Regions from separate parts of the Homo sapiens genome. Here region 2 is linked to region 1. The links come from fine-mapping of genetic effects on gene expression. A gene starts in region 1. The other region holds a variant in brackets. All regions are shown on one strand. Distances are from middle to middle.

The links. PIP is the estimated chance that this variant, and not a neighbour inherited with it, causes the effect.
Region 2: its variant is fine-mapped to the expression of ERLIN2 in whole blood (TOPMed, PIP above 0.99).

The regions. Positions count from the first base shown.
Region 1 is chr8:37,732,450-37,741,017 of GRCh38, forward strand. It overlaps ERLIN2 (ER lipid raft associated 2), which reads left to right and starts at 4,185. Exons shown (of 12, transcript NM_007175.8): 1 at 4,185-4,229; 2 at 5,459-5,580; 3 at 7,916-7,997. The coding sequence starts at 5,474. It overlaps LOC101929622 (a long non-coding RNA gene), which reads left to right. Exons shown (of 3, transcript NR_125820.1): 3 at 629-1,044. LOC102723701 (a long non-coding RNA gene) reads right to left here and starts at 4,977. Exons shown (of 2, transcript NR_125821.1): 1 at 4,930-4,977; 2 at 2,312-4,349. RefSeq lists enhancers at 4,058-4,267, 4,747-5,539.
Region 2 is chr8:37,759,310-37,767,877 of GRCh38, forward strand. PLPBP (pyridoxal phosphate binding protein) reads left to right here and starts at 3,336. Exons shown (of 8, transcript NM_007198.4): 1 at 3,336-3,449; 2 at 6,217-6,324; 3 at 6,402-6,437; 4 at 6,971-7,046. The coding sequence starts at 3,351. It overlaps LOC124901934 (a long non-coding RNA gene), which reads right to left and starts at 3,955. Exons shown (of 2, transcript XR_007060889.1): 1 at 3,618-3,955; 2 at 1-3,504. RefSeq lists enhancers at 2,885-2,964, 3,065-3,524, 3,102-3,396, 3,705-3,764 and a silencer at 3,024-3,344. The variant G/A (reference allele first, on the strand shown) is at 3,847.

The DNA of each region.
Region 1 (8,568 bases):
CTGGGTTTTCAAAAAAGCCAGACCCTCCCCCACAAAAAAGGGTACATACTATACAATTCCATGCATATAAAATTCTACAAAATGCACACTAATCTAGAGTGGCAAAAGAAGATCAGTGGTCTTTTGAGAATCGAAAAGGGGGTGTACCAAAGAGGGGTAAGAGGGAGAGATTACAAAGAGGCATGGGGAAATTTGGGGCCATGATGCATGTGTTCATTATACTGATTGTGGTAATGGCTTCACAGGTATTTGCAAGTCAAAATGTAAATTGTAGACTTTATGAACAGTTTATTACATGTCAATTATATCTCAATAAAGCTGTAAAAATGTGTAATCACAAAAGGACCTTTAGGTGCCTTCTAGCTGACTTTCAACTCAATTTTTTTCCTGATGGCTCTTTGATCTCTTTACCCAATGCCTTGAAGAAACATCATTAGCCCCAAGCAAATATGCTTTTGTTCTTGGAAGGCACCAATCCCGGTTTTTGCAACTGAAAAAAAAAGAAAAGAGGAAAAATTTCTGAGCCCCCTTAATAACTAAGGATACAGTTCACTCCTCTTCCCATAAGCTCACCAAAATCTTACTGGAATCAAATGTTCTAAAAGATTATTTCTATTCCCTGTTTTAGGGCCTAAAGTGAAAAAGATAAACTTTAAATCAAACGGAAACTTTTTCCAGCAACTTCCACTCTTGTGATACTGAACTGAACTGAAGCAGAAGATTTTAAGAGTTGCCTGAATCCTTTGGACCTGCTTATTGGCTTAAAAAGTCTAATTGTGAAATTGACTTAAAAATTCCTAATTGTGAAAGAAGGGGTCTCTTCTTTGGCATGGCACTCTCACTAACAATTTTCTTGGTAAGAGGACCCAACAAACAGCAATAGAAATAGAAAACTATGGATTGCTAGGTGAGAGTATTTTTTAACCTGCTTCAATCTACAACTGCAAAATGAACTGGCCCAATTTAATTAGAAAAATTTCAGTTTCTGACCACTGATCTACATTACTGAAAGGTTACATGTGAAATAAATGTGGGGTGTGTGTGTGTGTTTGTGTCTGAAATTGAATCATTTTCTAACTCATTCACTATAAAAAAGAAATAGACGGGATCATTTGAACTCTGCCTTTGCAATTTATCATCTTCGTGATCTTAGACAATCTCTTAATTTCTCTAAGCTTCCACTTTCTCCTCTAAAATGGAGTTGAACTCAAAGGGCTGACCTAAAGTTTACATAAAATGAGAAAATGTAAGGTACTGGGGCTGATACATAGACAGTATTCAATAAAGCTTTATGAAATCTGTATTGTAAATATCCATTGAGGTATAATTTCAGAAGCCTTTATCTCTTCTTCTGATAAGCCTTCATTTGGTTATTATTTAATACCATACAACTTAAAGTTTATCATTCTCTCGCCCTGTGTCACATTAATAATCTGCAATGATAACCCACAAACATGCAAGAATACATTAAGGGAATTTGCTATTTAAAACAGCAACAGCTAACACTTGGTGAACACTTAAAATGTACCAAATGTTGTATATGCTTTTCACAACAGTCCTATAAGTTTCATACCATTATTACTTTAATTTTATAGATGAAGAAACTGAGGCAGGGATAGATCATTTTTCCAATGTTACAGAATAAGAGGCAGGCTCCAGGATTTAAACAAGGCAGCCTGACTGTGAAGTATCTGAGCTAAATCACTACTCTATACTGTGAGGTTTTTTAAAAAATAAAATTTTAGCCGGGCGCAGTGGCTCACGCCTGTAATCCCAGCACTTTGGGAGCCCAAGGCACGTGGATCACTTGAGGTCAGGAGTTCAATACCAGCCTGACCAACGTGGTGAAACCCCATCTCTACTAAAAATACAAAAATTAGCCAGTCGTGGTGGCATGCGTCTGTAGCCCCAGCTACTCGGGAGGCTGAGGCAGGAGAATCGCTTGAAGGGAGGCAAAGGTTGCAGAGCTGAGATCGCGCCACTGCAGTCCAGCCTGGGTGACAGAGCGAGACAGGAAGGAAGGAAGGAAGGAAGGAAGGAAGGAAGGAAGGAAGGAAGGAAGGAAGGAGAAAAAGAAATTGTAAACATTTTTGTTAAACAAATCATCACAAATGTATCTGCTGGGTAACATAAAAATCACAGGTCTCTTAAGAAAGAGATTTTCAGAAGTACTAGATCATCATGTACTAGCACATCACGAAGTCCATCCCCCTGCCTTTAGGCACGTCCACAACTAAATAACTCAGGTCTGGTAAAATGACTCCTAAGAACAAAATCCCAAAACTTCTAGCCACAATTCACTCCAAAGTTTAATGTGAGGAAATTTTTGTGTTTTTATTATTTTTAATTGACACATAATAATATACATATTTGTGGGAAGGGGAGGGGAGACGGGTTGCCAGAGGTTGGTTAAAGGAAATTCTTAAATTACAAGTAATTTAAATACTTGATGCTGCAGGCTAGCCCCCATTTCATGGGTTGATGAACCCTAATATTTCCATTTTTCTTACTCAATTATTAAATAAACTATTAAATAAGCATGCCCAGCTGAGGTTATATCACTGAACAGGGAGAGAAAAAACTCAAGTTCTGATAGGATTGATCGAGAGATTGGCCAGCTGTGTCTGTTTGGGGTGGGGGATGCAGGGACAGAGTAGGGAGATGAAAGGCCTTCATTTATGGAGATGGGCACAGAGCTCCCAGACAGCACCATGTAACCCTCGTATGGGTTTCACCATGTAATGCTGAAACATCCCAACACCCAGAGCAAACGCAGGAAAGGTAAACGGGCCAATCCCAAGCAGGCATGCCTGGAAAAAACCACACTTCCCTTTTCCTGAGTCTTAAATCTGTCTAACACCACCAGCTTGCCATCTTCCCGGTGTAAAAGTTTTTCTTTTACTGAAGGCTATAATTAAGTGGACTCTTTCTCTCCTGCAAACAAAATATTAATAACCTCAGTGGCTGAATTAGAAATGCCCCAATGTGATGCTGGTGAATAGGGCAGGTGGAGGACAACGTGAGGCCCTTAGACTAGGAGACACAAACTCTGGATTCCGGGCCTGGTCCCACGTTGCCTTCAGTCTGTTTTTACTGGGCACCTAAGCCCCGGGGGTGCGGAAGGAAAGTCAGTCTCTGCTCTCCCGGGAACGTACAGTTTATCTAGAAAGACGAAGTGCACTAGCCCCTGTGCACTGTGGCAGGAGTTTAAAAAGCAGTGAACTCAAGATATTAAGGAAACACAAAGGAAACTTTCCTTGGCTTTTACCCTTGAACCTCGCTGAACTTCTTAGATTCCGTTCATTAAAATTAGAATAATAATTCCTTGTTAATATACTTTGTGGCGTTGCAGGATCCCAAGGGCCAAAGCTCCCAGAAAAATATAAAGAACAACTCAAGGTAGGGATTTTTGATTGGTGAGGTAATGATGCTAATCTGTACATTGAAAAGACTGTTTCATTTCAGCTGTGCTATAGGAAAGCAAACAGTTGCAACTCGCCAGTACCTTATCAAGGAGAGAAAAAAAAAAAGGCCGCGCATGGTGGCTCATGCCTGTAATCCCAGCAGTTTGGGAGGCCGAGGCAGGAGGATTGCTTGAAGCCAGAGTTTGAGACCAGAAATACCAAGACCCTGTCTTTACTAAAAATAAAATTGTCAAGTGTCGTGGCGTGCGCCTGTGGTCCCAGCTACTCAGCAGGGTGAGGTGGGAGGATCGCTTAAGCCCAGGAGTTCGAGGCTGTAGTGAGCTATGATCGTGCCACTGCACTCCAGCCTGGGCAAAAGAGCGAGACCTTGTCTCTAAAAAAACCAAAACGAACCAGGTTCGGCCTAATGCAGAAGGAAATCCGGAGCAATCCCCAAAGTCAACGCCTTGGAAAGGTTCGCCCTGGGTCTCAGTACTCCGGGGCATGCGCGTCCTGCCGCTCGCTCTCGGGGAGCTCCCACCAACACCGCCCTCATCCCCAGCCCCAGGACGGATACCCAAGACCGAGGTCCAGGACCGCACCGACCAAGTCGCGGGCGATCCCTGGCGGCCAGCTACGGCCATTGACCGCTGGGAGCGCGAGGGGCGGGGCGCAGAGCGAGCGCGGGGCGGGGGTGTGGTCTTCTCGCGTGAATTGATGGCGTCATCGAAGCGACGGCCCGGAAGGAAGTCGCGTGCTGAGGGGTGTGACGGTTTTCTTGCTCGTGGGCTCGGACGAGTACGGAGCGCCTGCAGGGACAGCCTGGTACGCGGCCCCCGCCCCTTCGTGCGCGCGCTGGGCCTAGCTGCCGCTCAGGGTCGGGGCTGACCCGTCACTTTCGGGAACCTCAGTCCCAGCAGCTTCTCTCCCTCAGCCGGCCCGCTCCTGGAGAGAGACAGAAACCCTTTTCTGTCGCGTCCTCTCCTTGCGAGCCGCAGGGGGACCGAGCGGAGGCTATTGGAGCCGCAGCCCCAGACCAGGGCGCTTGACCCTCTCTCGGAACGGGGCGGGGAAGGGGCGCGAGTGACCTCGGGGAGGGAAGGGCACTGGCAGGAAAGGACGCAACTGCAGATCGGTAGCCGGAGGCCGCCACGGTAAAATAAGCGCCTCGCAGATGTCCGCGCCCCGGTTACGTTAGACCTGGGAGGCAGAATCCACGCCCTGCGCTCACGGGCCCACGCACGCACAGCTGAACTTTGCAGTCAGTCACCATAGTTCCAGATCATTCAGCGTTCAGGATCCCACTCCTCCGCGTCCTGGTGCCTGAACGCGGTTGGACCTAGGAGCCTAGAGGCTCGCAGTTTGGGACATTGCCTTTCTCTCTGACCACGGGCTTGGGGATCTGTCAGGTGCAAAGTGCCAAAGTATATGGGGGGGAGTGTGGCTTCAGGCTTGTTCAGAGCCCTGTCCTGTTTAGGGCCAAAGGAATAACTGGGAAGGTGGATGCGAGGCCAACGAATCCTACCTTGAAACTCTGCTCGCCTGCTGGCTCTGCCACTCCAGCATCTGAAAGGAGTAAATAATGGTTTCCTTTGAAACTGCAGGCAATTAGGAGTGGGAGACTCTGACCAGAATTACATAGCCACAACTGCCTGTCATTTGGCATCCTCTGTAATTTGGGCCAAAGTACTGCAGCTGCCTCTCTTCCCTACTACTGGTAGGAAAGGTTCAGTGACAGCACATTCGTGTTCACAGGAAGACAAGGCTGTGTTCTGAACCCTACCCAGCTGGCACGGGTTCTCCCTTGAGCAACGGCTGTATCCGGAGCCAGTGCTTCCTCAGTGCGGTGGGGGCTCTAATTTTACAGTTAAAGAAAGGGGAACGTTGACTGAGAACGAGGAGGAAGCGAGTTGTAGATCTAGCCTTGTGTTCACACGACACCAGGCTGGATATGAGTCACTCGCAGGGAGCTCAGCTTGGTGAGGTCCTCTCGCTGTTGTGGCCTTTTCTCCTGCACGTTGGACCACACACATTTTCCCGTGTCTTTTCCCTAGGATAAAGGCTCACTGATGGCTCAGTTGGGAGCAGTTGTGGCTGTGGCTTCCAGTTTCTTTTGTGCATCTCTCTTCTCAGCTGTGCACAAGATAGAAGAGGGACATATTGGGGTATATTACAGGTAAGGCAGAGACAGGGAGAAGCCGGCAACTTCCTGTTAAATAGCTCCCTTTCCTGGTCATTGCTTTCCTAGCAGATTCTGCTGAACATCTCTATTTATATTTCCTTGAATAGGGGAGCCTTTTCAGATGGAGCTTTTTATGTCAGTAACCACGGGAAAGAGAATACACACACACACATATATATGTAAATTTAGAACTTCACTTAGTAGTCCAAGATGATGCCATGGGTGGTGATTAATAAATGTGTATATAGATTTAGAGACAAAATCTAAAGGAAACTGGTGCTCCTCATTGATCATCCCTAAAATACTGTTTTCTCCTACATTCCTCTGGCAGTCTTAGCTCTACATCCCTCTGGCAGTCTTAGCTCTACATCCCTCTGGCAGTCTTAGCTCTACACTGCTAGGTTACCTTTACAAAAGCCAGCTGAGTACCAGTTCTTGATGGCAACTTGAGAAGGTAGCCTACTCTGCTAATTTGGGATGCTCTTTTAAAATTAACATTTCAGCCAGCCTGGGTCACATAGTGAGACCCTATCTCTAAAAAAATAAAATAAAAAATAAAATTTTAATTGGCCGGCTGTGGTGTCACACACACGTAGTCCTAGCTACTCAGGAGGCTTAGATGGGAGGATCACCTGAGCCCAGGAGATTGAGACCAGCCTGAGCAACATAGTGAGAGCCCATCTCTACAAAAAGTAAAAAATTAGCCGAGCATGGCAGCACGTGCCTGTAATCCCAGTTATTTGGGGGGCTGAGGTGGGAGGATCACTTGAGCCCAGAAGTTTGAGGCTGCAGTGAGCTATGATCACACCACTGCACTCCAGCCTGGGTGACAGAGCAAGACCCTGTCTCTAAAAATAAAATAATATTAACATTTCAAGAAAAATGAAAGAGCCTGCAGGTTGACTTACGTCAATCAAAGCAAGCCTTAGGATAGTGGTTCCTACAATAAAGGAACCCATTATGTCACTGTTTATTTTATTGGTTTTTTTTTTAATTCTTTGCCTAATATAAAGCAAAGAAGCACTTATAAGTCTTGGGTTGCTTTCTTTTTAGTAACCTCCATGACCAAGTGTTTTGCTTTATGTCTTTATGAACTCTTCTTATATGTGCTGTTGTGATGCTTGTTTCTGGATTGCTAACAGCAAGTTCTAAAACTCTGATTGGAATTCCTCTCTCCTTTAATTCTTTCTCCCCATCATCTGCTTACATGTTCCCCAAAAAGGCTTTTAACTTCATCATTTACATATAACTTGATTAGAAAGGTAACTCTATTGCCAAAACATATATTTCAATTATTTATAAAGTACTTCAAATTATTCTTTTGGTTGGTCATGTCATTGGACTCCAGCATTAGTGCAGGTAGTTGATAACCATATTACTGGACTTAACTGCCCTAATGGATTGCCACAAGCCCAACAGATATGACAAAGTAAAACAGACTTCTTATCTTTTTTTTTTTTGAGACAGTCTCGCTGTGTTGCCCAGGCTGGAGTGCAGTGGTGAGATCTTGGTTCACTGCAACCTCCGCCTCCCAGGTTCAAGCAATTCTCTGCCTCAGCCTCCTAAGTAGCTGGGATTACAGGTGCCTGCCACCACGCCTGGCTAATTTTTGTATTTTTAGTAGAGACGAGGTTTCACCATGTTGGCCAGGCTGGTCTTGAACTCCTGACCTAATAATCCACTCACCTCAGCCTCCCAAAGATCACAGGCGTGAGCCACCGCGCCTGGCCAGACTTTCTCTTATCTAAGTATACCCATGGATTCTGCTGTCTTTTTCTTTTTTTTTTTTAGACAGAGTCTCACTTTGTTGCCCAAGCTGGAGTGCAGTGGCACAATTATGTCTCACTACATCCTCAACCTCCCAGGCTCAAGCAATTCTTACATCTCAGCCTCCCAAGTAGCTGGGACTATAGGCATACAACCACCACACTCAGCTAATTTTTTTCCTTTTCTTTTTTTGTAGAGACAGGGTCTCACTATTTGAGACAGGTTGGTCTCAAACTCCTGAGTTCATGCAATCCTCTCACCTCAGCCCCGCAAAGCGCTGGGACTGCACTAGTGGGTTCTGCTGTCTTTATTCCATTTAGCCTATGTGCCTATTTTTCTCCTTGCAAAAGCATGAACAATAGTTTTATGTTTTACCATCAGGCTTCCTAGAATATTAGGATCTAGCTGAGAGGAAGAAAGGGATCTGTAGCCATGGCTGCAGCACATGTCACTCTCTATTATATGTTTATAGGGCTGAAGGGAAAGTTGACCCTCATGATATTGATCTAACAGAGCCTTCTTGCCAAACTGAAGCTGCCTCTCTCTTCCCCCTCCTCTGCAGAGGCGGTGCCCTGCTGACTTCGACCAGCGGCCCTGGTTTCCATCTCATGCTCCCTTTCATCACATCATATAAGTCTGTGCAGGTATGCTTGGCCTCTGTGGTATGGCTGGACGACTGCAAACTTGGGCTGTTAACTAGTGCATGATTTGAAATTATTTAGCCATTGGATGAGTAAAATGCCATTCTAGAGAATGATATAAGGATAATATATACATATTATATATATATAATATATATATATATACACACATACACTATATATATATAAAATGAGGCTGGGGATTATTCCTTCAAGATAAAGCCAGAGAAGAACCTGTTCTGAGTATATGGAAAGAAAAGTCAGGGTTTATGTGTGTATGTTTTAAATCACAGGCTACCATGTTAAATGGAAAGAAAACATAGTAATTTTGCTGATTCTTATTTGAATTCAGAAATACGAACATAATTTTTGCAGTGAGTGGGGAGGAGTTAAACTAAGTGAGGGGAGGTGACATCTAAAATAGGAGTGAGGTTAGTTGTGGCAGATCTAAAGCCTGGCTAAGTTGGACTTGCCATCTCTGAAGTATGTCCAGCTAAGAAGAATAACAAGATTTTACACTTTACACTGACCCAGGAGAATGTCTTGGGATACCTGCTAGGCATTTTCCCTGTAA
Region 2 (8,568 bases), 27 kb after region 1:
ATAAATATTCTTCTCTGATGGTCTTCAGAAATTGTGAAGACTCTGTGCTGTTTGGGATGGTTTAAATGTCATTCTTTCTGTATGAAACCTCCCTAAGTCTTCCCTAGGTCTAGGGTTCTACTATCTCTATAGACATTTCAAAGGCCAGATGTGATGGCATGTGTGCCAAGGGCTTGCTGTCATGGGCTACTCTACCTGAATTCATTTAAACTGGGATGGGACATGGGCATTATTTCTCCGTTTCTCTTTAGAGCTAAGTAACCAGGCAACAGTAATTTTCTATTTTACTTTTTACTTTTTTATCCCCCTAAAAGACTCACAGTAGGCTCAGAAGGAAACAATTTTTAAATCCATATATGTTTTTCTCATAATTTGGATTTATTCCAGACTATGAGGGTGTTTTAAAAGCTTGATGGCATTGATGGTGAATAAGTATACTAGATTTTAGATTATTTATAAAATCTGTTTCTCTGGGCATTTGGCTTTTTAATCTTTCTCTTTTCCCCTTGGTCCTTGCAAATTATTGGAGCAATTTAAAGACAATTACTGGTGATGAAATGATTTTGGACTTGTATTTTTCAAGGATTAGGTAGTAGGGGAGGATGAAAGGTTAAATTGGATGGTTGATGTCCCAGGAAGAGGAAGAGAAGAAATTAAAAAAGCAAATAAGGAAAAAAAGGGACAAAGTGAAATAAAATTAATTCAAAAGTACAACTAAGAAGAAATTGGAATGTGAAATGACCATGGGACTGGGGGCACCATGATCTTTTTGTCTCCATTTCCATTTTCATAAGACCACAGAATGTCAGAGATGAAAAGCGAGCATATTGGAAGTAAATCGGCAGTAAAGCCTGTCTTACTCAGCCTGGTCTCTCTCAGGGTTCTTTACAGAGTAACGCCTCAGTAAATGTTCACTGAATGGATAAGGGGGTGGGAGGATGACCTTGCCTTGTAGTTCAAAGAATAGAGGTCCCTGGCTGGGCACGGTGGCCCACGACTGTAATCCCAGCACTTTGGGAGGCCGAGGCGGGTGGATCACAAGGTCAGGAGTTCGAGACCAACCTGGCTAACATAGTGAAACCCCATCTGTACTAAAAATACAAAAATTAGGCGGGCGTGGTGATGCACGCCTGTAGTCCCAGCTACTCGGGAGGCTCAGGCAGGAGAATCACTTGCACCCAGGAGGCAGAGGTTGCAGTGAGCCGAGATCGCGTCACTGCACTCCAGCTTGAGTGACAGAGCAAGACTTCGTCTCAAAAAACACAAAAAAGAATAGAGGCCCAATCTAGTAAATGAAGCTACAACTACTTGTTGTCATAGTGACGTAACACCTGGATTATACATTCCCTAGATCTGTGAGGTATTTATGGTTTTAAAATGTTTTCCAAATAGCACATTATTTGAAGTGTTTCATCTCACCCAATCCTTCCTCTACACATCCCATCACCATGATCCCCTCTGTCCTCCCCATCACTCACTGCTGGCTCGCTCCTTCCCACCTGTGTCTCTACAGCAAGCATCTATTATGCTCACACCACAAAGGGCCATTCTGGTCATTTTAAATTTTTTTATCATTTTGGTTGGAGTACAGATGTATCAAGTCTAGAGACATTTTATCTGAACACAATTACTCCTAATGTTGGCAGTCCTAGTTTGCAGATAACCCAGTTAATGTGTACCAGGGTAAATGACCAGAGACTTCCCAAAAAGAAGTCCCTTATTTTAAGGATCTGAGGTTCTGCCTAATGTGACTTTCCCAGAGCAGAAGATGTGAAATTCCATCTCTGTTCCTGGGAGTCTGGGGAAAAACTGTGAGAGGAGAGAGTAAGAATATTGCCCCTTCTTTCCGGAAAGCTCTAATAAACCCCATCACCTCAAGACAAGACCACCTGAAGAACAAACATTAGCCATTTCTCTAATATAATAGCATCCCACTTCATTAAGTTGAATTAATGTTTGAGAAACTTTCAACAGAAATTGCAGCCAAGAGTGCTTTCCTTAACAAAATTGATCTCCTTCTCCTTGCCCGTAGCACCTACTATTTCACCACCTGACTATGTAGCATTCTGTATTATTATTTGTATGGCCTGGCTCCTCATCAAGTTTATAACCATATTGCCCACAGAAGGGGACTCAAGAATCAAACTCAGGGCGTTGTGGTGCCCGTTTGTAGTCCCAGCTATTCTGTGAGGCGGAGGTGGGAGGATTGCTTGGGCCCACGAGTCCCAGATAATCTGGGCAACATAGCGAGACCCCATCTCAAAAAAAGAATCTAACTGAATGTGCTGAGCTCCTGCTAGACCATCTAAAGCTGCCTGTGGGCTGGGCGCGGTGGCTCGCACCTGTAGTCCCAGCTACTGGGGAGGCTGAGGCAGGAGAATCGCTTGAACCCGGGAGGTGGAGGTTGCAGTGAGCCCAGATCGGGCCACCGCACTCCAGCCTGGGTGACAGAGCGAGACTGTCTCAATAATAATAATAGTAATAATCATGCTGCCTGTGTCCCCTGATGAGACAGCACTGGCCGCAGGTGGCCGCTAACCTCTCGAAATAGGGATGGCCCGAATTGAGACATATGCAAGTCAACACTACACCGGGTTTCAGAAACACATACGATTTTCAAAAGAATTAAAATATCGCATTTAGTTTTTCTATTGATTGCATGTTGAAATCTTACTTTGGATATATTGGATTAAATAAAGTATATCATTAAAATTTTTAAGCTTATGTGCCTATGAGAAACTTCCAAATTACACAGTTGGATGGCGTTATATTTCTCTTGGACAGCAGTGGTCTGAAAGATGACAAAAATCACGATACGTTTGAATCACGCCATGTCTTTAGGGAAAAGAAGAAAGAAGAGTTTCCTTTCGTATCGCTTAGGGGTTCCTCGCAAGAACCATCTGACAGAGAAAAGCCCTGGCTCCCGCCCCAGTGGCTTCTAATTCTGGTCCCCGCGCCCAGAAAGCCGGGAACGGGCAAGCCTGGAAAGGCGTTTTGAAAGGAAACAGGATCCCCCGAGTATAGGATGCGTTTCTGCCTCACAAAAGTCCCTTGGGGGTGGGGGGACGGCAGCGGCTGAGGCGCAGGAAAGAGGAGAGCACACGGGGAGTGGCCCTTGGAACCAGGCGCGCAAAACCTCAGCCCCTAGGCTCCATTTCCAGGTTCGCGGGTGACCTCCCCAAGATGGCCGCCGCCTGGGGGCGGGCCTCCACGCTGCACGGGTGTTGATTGGGTGAGACGACTCAATGATGAGCAATGATTGGTTCACACGGCGCAAGCTGGGCGGAACCGGAAGATGGTGTGAGCCACGGGCTGCCGGGGGCCTGGGGCTCGGCGTCGGTCCCCGGGGGATGTGGAGAGCTGGCAGCATGTCGGCCGAGCTGGGAGTCGGGTGCGCATTGCGGGCGGTGAACGAGCGCGTGCAGCAGGCTGTGGCGCGGCGGCCGCGGGTGAGGAAGGAGGCTGCGTGGGGACGGTGGGCGGCCGCCTTGAGAAGAGGGACACCTGCGTGGGAATGGGTCGTCACGGTGACGCAGAGGGGTCTCCCAGAGAGGCGGGACTGGTCGGCCGCCTAGGGCCACCGAAAGGCTAGCGAAGGGTTTCCCCAGCCTCCTTACCTTGAGTCTGTTAGGTTTTCTGGAGATTGGCTTCGTTGGAGCAGAGGGTACCGCTACCTCGGGAAAATGACTTAGTGCCTAGGTGTCGTGGCCACTTGCGCACCGCGTCGTTTCGGGGTCGATAGCCTTGGCGGATGCGAGGGGGGCCAGGCCTGTGCCCACGGATGGTAAGGGGAGACGGGGGTACAAGAGCACCCCGCGGAGGCCAGAGACGCCCGAGATCGCGTGT[G/A]TGGCAGCGTCTCACCTGCTAAGTGCCCAAGAAATGCCAGTGCCGCCCGGAGGCCGAGGTGAGGGTGGACTGGCCGGACTTCGCTGGCATCAGAGCGGCACTTGTTTATGGGGCAGGAGGGAGAAGTCCAATCCCAAGCCGGTTAAGGGGAGCTTTCGTCTTTTGTGTATATATATATTACATCCTCTTGGACTTTGATTAGACCAAGAATCAAAATCTGCCCACCTCAGTGCAAGTTTAAGCTGAATGGTGTGGAATGAGACGGACCTTAACAGAGAGGTCACAGGTTTCTCTGATCGAGCATTTATGCTGGCTGAAGACAAGACCTGTATTATAGTCTTTCTTTGACTATTCCTTAGACGTTACCTTGAACAAGTCAGGTAACTATTCCGGCCCTCAGCTCTGAAAGCTCTGAGATCTCTTCTGATGTTAATATTCTGTGATTCTCGGTGATTCTCCAAGAAAAATCTAGGGCTTCCCCTAATAAACATCACCTTGGAGGTTCTCTCAGGGAAACTCTCAGGCAGATGGGCTGCCTGTTCGGGTAACTCTCTGGAAAGCGTCAATCATCAGCATACTCCCAGTAGTCACGACTTGGACTCAAACGAGGCTGGTTACGCATCGCTGTGGAAGGAAGGAAGAGGAGACATTTTTCTAATTGATCTGACTCCGTCACGTCCTTGAGAACACTGTGATTCTGTGAAAACTTCAGGGGATGATGGATACAAGAAGACTAAATCGTGCAAGGATAAACGAATCTCTTCTCTTACTGTTTCTATGTGGATTGGGTGGCAGCAGAACGCATAGAACCCCCGCTCTTTGTATAGTGGTCGTGAGAGGATGTCACATAGGTCTGATCCTGAATCCAGAATTTTTTGTGTCGCAGCCTTAGTTCTGCCACTGGTTCTTTTCTTTCTTTTTTTTTTTTTTTTTGTTGTGTTGTTTTGTTTTGTTTTGTTTTGTTTGAGACAGAGTCTCGTTCTGTCGCCCAGGCTGGAGTGCAGTGGCACGATCTTGGCTCACCGCAACCTCCACCTCCCGGGTTCACGCAATTCTCCTGCCTCAGCCTCCTGAGTAGCTGGGATTACAGGCACACACCACCACACCTGGCTAATTTTTTGTGTATTTTTAGTAGAGACAGGGTTTCATTATGTTGGCCAGACTGTTGTTTTTTGTTTTATTTTGAGACGGAGTCTCACTCTGTCACCCAGGCTGGAGTGCAATGGCACAGCCTCAGCTCACTGCAACCTCCACCTCCCGGATTCAAGCAATTCTCCTGCCTTAGCTTCCCAAGTAGCTCGGATTACAGATGCCCACCACCACACCTGGCTAAGTTTTAGTATTTTAATAGAGATGGGGTTTCACCTTTTGGCCAGGCTGGTCTCGAACTCGTAACTTCAGGTGATCCACCCACCTCGGCCTCCCACAGTGCAGGGATTACAGGCGTGTGGCTCACCTGGCCATGCCACTGGTTCTTAATTCACAGATTGAACAATCAATTACTTAGTTACCTAAGTGGGCCACTTTTAGAGTAAATGGGGCAGTGTTATTATGGTGTAATGATACACCAGGACTAGAATGAGTCGCCAAACTGCTAACGTTTGGGTTTCAGAAGCCAGAAGTGACCTCTCTTTTACTTAGAGTGCAGCCTTCTATTAATGAAGTGATTCTTAAGCCTCCAACATTAGTATGTCTTAGAGTCATCTGGAGAGATTGTTAAAAAGGAAATTCTCCGCTGGGCACAGTGGCTCATGCCTGTAATCCCAGCACTTTGGGAGGCCGAAGTGGGCAGATCACCTGAGGTCGGGAGTTCAAGGCCAGCCTGACCAACATGGGGAAACCCTGTCTCTACTAAAAATACAGAATTAGTCAGGCATGGTGATGCATGCCTGTAATCCCAGCTACTCAGGAGGCTGAGGCAGGAGAATTGCTTGATCACTTGAACCCAGGAGGCAGAGGTTGCGGTGAGCCGAGATGGCACCATTGCACTCCAGCCTGGGCAACAAGAGTGAAACTCTGTCTCAAAAAAAAAGGAAATTCTCACCCAGGTGATGCCGATGCAGTTGGTCAAAGACCACACTTACAGGAAATACTGCTTTAACTTGCCCGGCTCTCCTGAGAGAGACATTTCTTCTGCTGAATATTGACATCGCTAACATTGATGCATAGATTGAGATGCCATGCGCCTAAAAAACATTTGATCATGATCACCACTATTTGATATTGATCTGCCTACAGTGTTGAAAAAATGGATCTTACCTAATGCCAAGTTGAGATCAATGCCTGTCTATCCTACAGGATCTATCCTATGGGATTCATTGGGGTACTGTTCCCAAACATTCACTCATATGGCTCTTTCCCTCTTGGCAGGATCTCCCAGCCATCCAGCCCCGGCTAGTGGCGGTCAGCAAAACCAAACCTGCAGACATGGTGATCGAGGCCTATGGACATGGGCAGCGCACTTTTGGCGAGAACTACGTAAGAGCCCTTTCCTGAAGCCCTTTGGAAGCATCATGATTGCCAGGCTTCTGACTTGTTCTGTTTTGACCTTTTAGGTTCAGGAACTGCTAGAAAAAGCATCAAATCCCAAAGTAAGTAGATAGCTGAATTCTTTAATTTGTATCTAAATCTTGGCTCTTTAGTTGAAAATTAGACCCATCCTGGTGGTTGAGTTGTACAGCAGTTTTAGGGTGGTTGACTTTAGATTGGGCCAGGGATAGAAATGTCAGCTTCCTCCTTGAGCCCCAAGTAATTCTCAGCTAGATTTTTCTCTTTGTTCAGACTGTCGTTTTCTCATTGGTGGCTGTTTGGAAATGGTGGTTTCAGGAGCTTGCTGTAATCTTGGATCTTTTCAAGATTTGAAAGCTTAAATCAGTTCATCCTAGATGGGCAATATCTGAAAGATGGAGGGAATTGATGGGAACAAGGAAGGAAAACAGAACAGAAGCCTTAGATTTTTCTCTATCCTTTTACCTCATTAGGAGGCCGGGTGAAGATTGTGATAGTTTATTACATTTAAGGAACAGAGAGTGGATGTGAAAGGTGACAGGGAGTGCACGAGGCGTTTGAGCCAGCAAGGCCTCTATAAAATCTGAATTACACATGGTTACCTTTTTCCCCTCAGATTCTGTCTTTGTGTCCTGAGATCAAATGGCACTTCATTGGCCACCTACAGAAACAAAATGTCAACAAATTGATGGGTAAGATAAAATTAAATATGAAAACAAAATTGTTCTGTCATTGTATTGCTTCTACTACCCTTTGTGGAAGAGAGAGCAACTTTTAGAATAGCCCCAATTCACCATTTGTTTTTGGAATTTCTTTAGGAAAGTCTGAGTTCTTAATAAAAAGAGAAAACATCATGCCAAGAACAGAATGAATTCACCATTTTCTGGGTTATATATACTTGGAAACCTACCCAACCTCATGTTTATTATTATTTGGTGGTCTTTCAGAAAAATTATAAAGAATTGTAGCCCATAAATTTTTTTAACTAGCAAAAGAGACATTTCTGTTCTTTTTCCTTTAAATAAAAGGCTACAGTAAATAAAATACAATACAGTAAAGTAAGTATAGTAAAGTAAAATTAAGAATTATAGTAAAGTAGGCCAGGCGCGGTGGCTGACACCTATAATCCCAGCACCATGGGAGGCCGAGGCAGGCGGATCACCTGAGGTCAGGAGTTCAAGACCAGCCTGGCCAACATGGTGAAACCCCAACTCTATTAAAAATGCAAAAAAATAGCTGAGCGTGGTGGTGCATGCCTGTCAAGTCCCAGCTACACAGGAGGCTGACGCAGGAGAATCGCATGAACCCGGGAGGCAGAGGTTGCAGTGATCCAAGATCACGCCACTGCACTCCAGACTAGGTAACAGAGCAAGACTTCATCCCAAAAAAAAAAAAAAAAAAAAAAACAAGAATCATAGTAAAATAAAATTAAGAAAGACATGGAGATCTTGAGTAACTGAACTTATTTCCCTTAAGGTATAAAAATTTAAATAACCTGTATATATTTTGTAACAGCTTTATTAGGGAGGTAAGTGACTTACAATACATTGCACATATTTAAAGTATAGAATTCGACGAGTTTTGATGTATGTTTGCACCTGTGAAACCATCACAACAAACAGTGAGCATATCTATCACCCCTAAAAGTTTCCTCCTGTCCCTTGGTAATCCCTCTCTTACCTGTCCCACTTCTCTTCCTCAAGAACCACTTACCTGCTTTTGTCACTGTTAATGTACGTGAGTTTACATTTTTTAGAGTTTTATCCAAAGGGAATCATGAAGTATGTACTCTTTTTTGTCTGACTTCTTTCATTCAGTGTAGTGATTCATCATGTTCATACCTGTATCAAAGGTTCAATTCTTTTTATCATTCAGTAGTATTCCATTGTATAAGTATATTACAATTTGTTTATCCATTCACCTGTTGATGAATGTTGGGTTGCTTCTGATTTTTGACTGTTGCAAATAAGTTGCTATGAATATTTGTGTACGAGCCTTTGTATGGATATATTTCCCTTTTTCTTGGAATAAATATATAGGAATAGAATGGCTGAATCACAAGTTAAGTGTTATGTTTAACTTTTTATAACTGCAATAAAACAAACATAAAATTTACTGTCTTGATCTTTTATTTACTTTTTTTTTTTTTTTTTTTTTTTTGAGATGGAGTCTCGCTCTGTCGCCCAAGCTGGAGTGCAGTGGCGTGATCCCGGC